Regions from separate parts of the Homo sapiens genome. Here all the other regions are linked to region 3. Evidence: fine-mapped expression QTL. A gene starts in region 3. Each other region holds a variant in brackets. All regions are shown on one strand. Distances are from middle to middle.

Region 1 (2,814 bases), 26 kb before region 3:
ATCACTTTTGCAACATGTATCTACAGTTAGGAGCAATGACTGCAAAATCAAAAATCAAAATAATGCAAAAAAGAGTTGAAGTTATTCTTCATATTTTTTAAACTGAAGAACCAAGTACTTAATGTGGTAGAAAACCACCTATTAAAAACCTCAGCCCATTTTGAGCAAGATAAAGATGTACAGATGAAAGACTACGTTAAATCGTCTACAAATATAGAATCTAATGACAAATTCAATATAATTGTTTATACATAATCCTTATATGGTAAATTCAGAAGGAATGCCTAACTTGTTATTGTTAGTTTGCTTCTTCAACAACAAGTGTTCCTAAAATGTGAGCAAGCAATAATCGTTTTGGCTCAATTCACTGTAATGACATTAGTTCAGGATCTGCCAAGAGCTGCTGGATCTGAGTTAAGTCAGGAGGCTGCTGAGGAATGTTTCATCCTGGGAATCCTCCAGCATCTCTCTCCTATAACTGGTTTTAAGTTAGCATGCCAAGTTTAGGACTGAGGAGGACAAAAAATATAGGAAAGTTCCCTTTTGTAACAGAAGGTTTGTAAGTACATGAGAATGGTCACAGCCACATGTGTGTTCAATCTAGGATAGACTAAATCTTGAAAGGTTAGCTCACATCCACTTCAATTTTGCTACTCTAGGCCACTGTTTTGTAAAATACCTTACAGGAAGGGTTGAAGAGTAGCCATGACCTTCAAATTTGGAAGGTATTATGCTTACCAGCTGTGTATGAGCCTTTCAAGTATATGACACAATATCAGATCAATCTGTTGTTTTAGAAATAATTTTGTCGGTAATTAAACTTTTTGTTTGGAGGCACAAACACAATTTATTTCAATGTAAAGGTACTACCAAATGAAACAGTTTAAATGCTTGTAACAAACGTGTTATCCAAAACAGCACAATATGATGATGCTAAGACTTACAAAATTAACCTAATTTACAGTATTGTCAAACATGATTTCATACAAACTTGAATAAACACCACATCTAACTAGGTCAAACAACTACCGAGTTCAAATAATTGATATGGAAGTATTTTGGTAAAGTGCCCATAGTGAGAGTTTAAAAAGCAGCCCCTGTTTTCTATAGAAAAAGTTGTGACAGTGAATAACTCATCACATTCTCTGCAATACTACTCAGCACTCATATACACTCAGGGGAGCAATACCCTGGACACATAGCTTATTTCACATTAGTGAACAAACTCAAGATTTTTATAAAGTTCTGACTTTGGGCCAGAAGATAAAATGTCCCATATATACATATATA[C/G]AAACCCTAATTCCTACCCTCTTAAATCCTCTAGTTCTAAGAATGGCTTTTTGACTTGTCTTTAAGTTTAGAAAGGAAAAAGTGTGCAATGCGCTTGCATCTGTACTTGCTGAATTATGAAACAAATATGTTAAATGAGAAAAAAACCTTGGGATGGTACTAATACACTTCGATTATATACATGATCTTTGGGTATTCATGACAATCAGTTTAACCATCTGTTGCCTTATGAAAAACTTAATTTCCTAAGTTACCCAGGAAATGTATTTAACCATTTACAAAAACAAAAATTCTAATATGCACTTTAGAAAATCGTGGTCTTATATACCTGCATATTTCTTCCATAAGACAGGTACACATTAAAAAATATTGCTCAATGACATAAAAATATATATTATTTCTTTCCTTTGCCATTTATGCATATAAATATTTCACCGAAGAAGATGCATCATTCAATAAACAAATGCAAAAACTACTTTATATAAAGTGTGGTTCTCTATTTAGCAATATAAAATATAAAACGATAATAATACAGTTAGCTATTAAAGAGCTAAATTCAAGAAATTTGCAAACCAGTACAGCAGTGAACAGTCCCTTGTATAATACAAAAGTCCATTATGAAAAAGTCAAGTCTATTTTGTAACAGGTTACATAAAAATATGGGCCAATAAATGCATTATGAATGCAGAAACAGCACTGCTCCATCAGCACATTCTTCAGTCTTGTTTGGACTAGATGCCAAACTTACTGTTCATTTTTCGGTTCATCTTGTTTTCCATTAAGTTCTTGATCAACTCTGTTTAATGAAGAATATATAAAATAAGAAACCAGCAACTGAACAATTTTCTTTCTAAAAATAATGACTATTTTAGCATAGAATATTACTCTGTTAAAGACAAAGCTTTGCAAAGAAGCAGACATAGTAAAAACAGTTACCAAACATCATTTCCCCAACCAGAAAAGAGAATTTTTAAAGGCAGGAGGACACTGGCAAGAAATGTGACCGTTGTTTCTTTAAAGATTATAAAATACTTTACATACAAATGCATATAAACTTTTTTTTTTTCTTATTTTTGAGACGGAGTCTTGCTCTGTCACCCAGGCTGGAGTGCAGTGGCACAATCTCAGCTCGCTGCAATCTCCGCCTCCTGGGTTCACACCATTGTCCTGCCTCAGCCTCCCGAGTTGCTGGGACTACAGGCGCCCGCCACCATGCCCGGCTAATTTTTCGTATTTTTAGTAGAGGTGGGGTTTCACCATGTTAGCCAGGATGGTCTCGATCTCCTGACCTCGTGATCTGCCTGCCTCAGCCTCCCAAAGTGCTGGGATTACAGGCGTGAGCCACCGTGCCCAGCCATAAACTTTCTTAAAAGTTCAAATTACATGGCATATTAAAATCTTGACCTGTAACTTGGCTGTGGTAGGGATCCAGGTGGTACGAAAATGGCAGGAAAAACAACTCCCTCAAAAATGATTCTGTTAACTAAAATATGAAAATGCCATGAAGGCCACCAATTATCAATC
Region 2 (2,814 bases), 22 kb before region 3:
CTCAAAAAAACAAAACAAAAACCCATCAAAAAGCTTATTTATTTAGTGGTGGGTTGGACATCAGTCATATCAAAATTTACGCATGTGGGCATTAGAAGGATTACATAATTACCACATAATAATTACAGACAACCCTTCAAAGCTAACAGTCTATTACTATTACATTTGTAGTGGTCTGAATAACTGATGAAGGGACCTTTAAAACAATCCGGTATTAGATAAAGAAAAATATTTTTCATATGTTTTTATTCTCATCACCCATTACTATGCCCACCTGAATATTAGTGAAACAGACCTAAAAGCCCTGGTCTGTGGTAAAGCCAAAGTAACATTTTAAAATATTTAAAATATTGTTATAAAAAATTTGGAATGTATTTCTGATAAGGCATGCAAAATATATCAAATCCTCTTAACATCTGAAATATCCTTACCAACTAATTTCATAATTATTTTTAAACTCCCCTGAAACATTTTAACAATCTGTATCTGCATGGCCACACTTGCATCCAGTTGTTTGAAAGAAACATTTTAAACATTTAAACTGCTATCCTTTTTCTGTCACTGGGGACACTGGATCTCCCTGTTGTCAACATTTCTTCAACCCTCTTCCCCACAAGCCCCTCAAGAAAATGGTTTTGCCCCTTCTTCCCCTGCTCCCCAAAAACCTGCCATAGGGACTCATAGCTTCATACTCTTCTTAGCACCACTACTTATCATATCATGCAGTTGTCACCTTAAATAAGCTCCCTTGCACCTAGCTTCTGTAAAGTTTGGTTTAGGCTGGGCGTGGTAGCTGACGCCTGTAATCCCAGCACTTTGGGAGGCCGAGGTGGGTGGATCACTTGAGATCAGGAGTTCGAGACCATCCTGGCCAACATGGTGAAACCCAGTCTCTACTAAAAATGCAAAAATTAGCCAGGCATGGTGGTGGGTGCCTGTAATCCCAGCTACTTGGGGGGCTGAGGCAGCAGAATCGCTTGAACCCGGGAGGCAGAGATTGCAGTTAGCTGAGACTGGGCCATTGCACTCCTGCCTGGGTGACAAGAGTGAAACTCTGTCTCAAAACAAAACATGCCTCTCTACCTAAATTTAATTTAAAAATTAAATTTTATCATTTTCAGATTGACAAAAATTTATTATTTTTTAAGACTAAAGAAACTACAAAAAACAGAACGTTTTTGAAAGATACATGTAATCATTCTATTTATGGTTAAACACAAGTAAAAAAAAAATCAAGATAAAATAGTGACAGGTTTCAAACAATATATTTAAATAAAAAGTACAAATTCCATATTTTTTCTGATGTCTAAATTACTTAACAGTATTAAAAA[C/CT]TTTTTTTAAAAAGGCTTAATACAGCATATTTTATCAACAAAGGCAATTCACTGTGAAATCTATGAAGCAGCTGGCTTCAAAATATTCTACAATTACAAATCATATTTTTAATTTCAGCCACTTGTCTGTCGAATGCACAGCAATGCCTAGAAAGGAATGTGAAATCAGCATGATCTAAAATCACTGTCTACATTTCTATGTTAAAGTGTTGGTTAAACTGTGAAGTGTCATATAGAAGTGTAAAACTGATTCTATCACAAAGTCTACTAAATTCTCACTCATCAACAGAAACAAAATGTGTTCAAAGTTAAGAATGTTCCAGTTAGTTACAGTTGGCTCCTTAGAATGGTCAAGATAATTACATATAAATCTCTCACCGTAACTCTTAAGATTGTATTAAACTATGTTTTGCTAATTTAATTGCCAATATTTTAAAGATCTAACAAACTAGATCTAAATTCTACGTTTTTCTAAATTATTATACAAAATTCTAAGTATTTTATACCCTTGCCTTTCATCATCTATGTCAAGGTATCAATAGATAATAGTTTGTTATGCTCAAAGCAGAAGTGTTCAAAATTAAATTTAAAATAGAAAGTGAAGTGTTTAACTGTTAAATGGGACACTGAGATTTTAGGTATTTTATCACATGTAGAATTTGACTGGTTAGCAAGCCATTTAATTTAAGCATAAAAGGAAACCAATGTTGGTTAGCCAAAGTATATATGCATTGCAAATATAATAATCAACCCCAGGGAAATAAATTGAGAACTTTTAAAAAGTCTGCAAAAATATTTCAAAAGCACAAGTTAGCGATTTAAAGAAAATGGTGAAACAGATAAAGTCTTAAAATTATTTGGTGTTCCAAATACCATTTTTAGTAATTTCTCTGGTTTCACCATTAGTACTTAGACTAAGAAGGAGAGAGAAGGGTCTGTGGTTTTTAATTGCTAATTGGCATCATATATGGCAATAAAACATGGTGAATCCAAGTCATATTCAGCCTTAGGAACTCTGGGTTCACCCTGTATTTGGAAGTTGGGGTACATTTATATTTGCAAATGCTATTATCTTTGTCTACAAGCTAACCAACCAATAAGGAAGAGTTAGTCTGCAATGCAAATGGACTAGTCTAGATGCAACCCAGTCAAGGTGTGCATATACCTTTTTTGTTTCTTTTTAAACTTTTCTTCTTCATACCTTTGTAGGGAAGAGTTATTTCAGTAAATATACATGTTATGAAAATGAATAAAAACTTGAAAAAAGCTACTAAAAATAAACTCATTTAAATTTTCCAGCAAAACCAAAAATATTTACTACATGATGTAGAAAGTAAAAATTTACTTAATAAATCTGACTTTCATACATTAAATAGACTAAAACCTCAGGTGAGCAGAACAAAGAAACTTTTCCACATGCATTGTAATACTCAGTTATTTATGTTAACAGCCTTCTACCAAGTCCAAGAAGTTACATGGAAGA
Region 3 (2,661 bases):
GTTCCGTTTGCAGAAGTGGATCTGTCATACTTCCGGTCTAAGCCCAGCAGTATTAGGCTGCACTAGAGAATATGAAGACTAGGAATAGAGTTTAGAGAAAATGTAAACCAAAAAGAACTAAGAATATGTGCAAAATGATCAAGAAACTAGTCTGCAGGGGTAACTTAATTGGGTAAGGTCAGTTGTAACTTTGAGGAAACATCCATTTACAAATTACAGAATTTGTTTCTACAATTGCAGAGATTCCTATAAAATGTTAGAAAAACTACATTTAATTGAAAATACGAAATCAGGTATTAGGTGAAATAGAGATCCTAATCAAGAGAAGGTGAGAATGAAAAAAGCAACACTAAAATGCAATCACATAGTTTATTCAATTAAATAAATAGGAGGCACCGTAACTATCTTGATGCAACACCGGAAAAGCTGTTTCGTCAAAGAGCTCACAAGACACAGACAAGTAACTCTCCAGCGGCATGAAATGCATCCAGAAATCCAAACCATTTTGCCAGGTATTTAAACAGAAAGGGTTGTGTCTAGATTCACGCGGGGACTCGGCTTTTGACGTACACACTCTGTATTTGGTTTAGCGTACTAGGGAAGATCTATTAAAGCCCTGATTACTTATGCTGCTTCCGTGTCTATTCCCCGCGGTTACGAGGCATACCAGAAGTCCAAGTTTCTTTGTTCTGTACCAGGACGGACGCTGGTCATAAATACTGAACCATCGTAGCCCAGCCACTTCACCCACACCAGGGTAAAAGGGTGGGGGAGCGGAGGAGGGGCAAGGTTCCATCCCGAGCACAACTACCAGAAACGGAAAAGCGACGGGGTGGGGGGCCAAACTGCCAAATACAAACAGGACCCAAGCCAAGGGCGGGGACCTAAGCAGGGCGGGGATCCAGGAAGCACCTCCCGAGCAGGTTCTATGGCTCCCCCTACCAAGGGTAACTCTCTGGGTTTCCTCTCCCCGGACGTCGTGGGCACGCGCCCGACAGACTTTCGCCCCTAGGCCGGTTCCCAGTCCAGCTCCGGAGCCACCGTGCCGAGTTCTCCCAGGCCGCACTCACCCCGGAGGAAGCCTTGGCCCCCTCGTCCTCTTCGCCCCTCCAGGCCGGCGACGTGGGGCTGACGGCCAGGTCGCAAAAAGCAGGGCCGAGCGGAGCCCGCTCCCCTCGGTCGGCGGTGGAGACCCCGGCCCAATCCCCCGGCCGCAGCGGTACGGCGTCGGCGGCAGCAGCTGACCCGGACACAGTGAGAAGCCCCGGCGGAAGTGATAACATCCCGACCTCCTCCGGGCGCGGCAGCCGGCGGTGGAGGCGGCGGGGGCGTGGCGGCGGCGGAGGCGTGGCGTCTTCTTGAAACCCACACAGCATCCCCCCAACCCCCTCAGACGTCACGGGCTAGCGCTCGCGCCTGCACTCGCGGGGTCGGCCTTCCTTGCCTGTGGGCGGACCCGTCGCGTCGACTCCTTATTGGTGGCGTTACTACGCCTCAAGGCGTTTCTTCCCTCTTTGCTGTTCGCAGGGACGCTGCCTGGTAGTTTCAGTTACTTTTGTTTTCTTTCTGCCTGCCTTTATTGATCATTACAGTAGGTGAAATTATCGATATCAATAATAATATTGTAATACAATAGGTGCAATTATCAATATCAATATTATTACAACAGGTGCAATTATCAGTATCATTACAATAGGTGCAATTATCAGCGATCAATAATGTGAATTATAAAATGGATGAAATAAGGGGAGGAGGTCGGGCGCGGTGGTTTACGCTTGTAATCCCAGCACTTTGGGAGGGCGAGGCGGGTGGATTACCGGAGGTCAAGAGCTCGAGACCAGCCTGGCCAACATGGTGACACCTCGTCTCTACTAAACAAACAAAAATTAGCTGGGCGTGGTGGCGCGCGTCTGTAATCCCAACTACTCAGGAGGCGAGGGCGGAGGCGGAGGCGGAGTTGGAGTTTGCAGTGAGCCGAGATCGTGCCATTGCACTCCAGCTTGGGCAACAGAGCAAAAACTCCGTCTCAAATAAAAGGAAAAAGGAAAAAAAAAAAAAAAGAAAAAGAAAAAAAAGAAATAAGGCGAGGAAAAATATCCGAGGCATCATTTTGGGGAGTTAGGCCTCAGAAGCGACCTTAGAGTTTGGTAATATTTGAGTGTGAAAAGCTTTACAGCAGTGCTTCTCTTCACTGGGGGAACGGTCGGTTTATTTTTTTCAATTTTCAATTAGTTTTTGACAAGTTAATAAAACAGAAAAATGAAAAGACATACAAAGTCCAAGTCAAAACTTTTTATCGTTAGAGTTAACAGCCATAAAATTACCTGCAAAATTGACATAGAGTTTTCTACTCTCTCTCTGTGAACCATTTGCAAACAGTTCTCAGAAGAGCCCAGGTCTATAGACCATGGTTAGAGTACTCAAGGTAAACTACTCAAATTAGACCATACTCAGCTGTAGAGTTTCAACCAAATGAGATTTGTTTGGAGAACATCATAGTCTCTCTCAGTTGGGCGTGCTGGCTCATGACTGTAATCCCAGCACTTTGAGAGGCCGAGTCGGTAGATCGCCAGACCTCAGGGCAACATGGCGAGACCCCATCTCTTAAAAAAAAAAAAAAAAAAAGAGACAGAGAAAGAAAGAAAGAAAAAGAAGCAAAGA

What was found. PIP is the estimated chance that this variant, and not a neighbour inherited with it, causes the effect. A credible set is the group of variants that fine-mapping cannot tell apart.
Region 1: its variant is the best candidate, but not a certain one, in a credible set for the expression of BNIP2 in lymphoblastoid cells (GTEx, PIP 0.85).
Region 2: its variant is the best candidate, but not a certain one, in a credible set for the expression of BNIP2 in whole blood (INTERVAL, PIP 0.51).

Annotation. Positions count from the first base shown.
Region 1 is chr15:59,662,035-59,664,848 of GRCh38, forward strand. It overlaps BNIP2 (BCL2 interacting protein 2), which reads right to left. Exons shown (of 10, transcript NM_004330.4): 10 at 1-2,086. The coding sequence ends at 2,035. Among named protein-coding and RNA genes, the nearest start is that of GTF2A2, 5.9 kb to the left of the region's middle. The variant C/G (reference allele first, on the strand shown) is at 1,291.
Region 2 is chr15:59,665,607-59,668,420 of GRCh38, forward strand. The region is part of intron 9 of BNIP2 (BCL2 interacting protein 2); the gene reads right to left. Among named protein-coding and RNA genes, the nearest start is that of GTF2A2, 9.5 kb to the left of the region's middle. The variant C/CT (reference allele first, on the strand shown) is at 1,332.
Region 3 is chr15:59,688,065-59,690,725 of GRCh38, forward strand. BNIP2 (BCL2 interacting protein 2) reads right to left here and starts at 1,256. Exons shown (of 10, transcript NM_004330.4): 1 at 1,071-1,256. RefSeq lists an enhancer at 962-1,610 and a silencer at 1,024-1,533.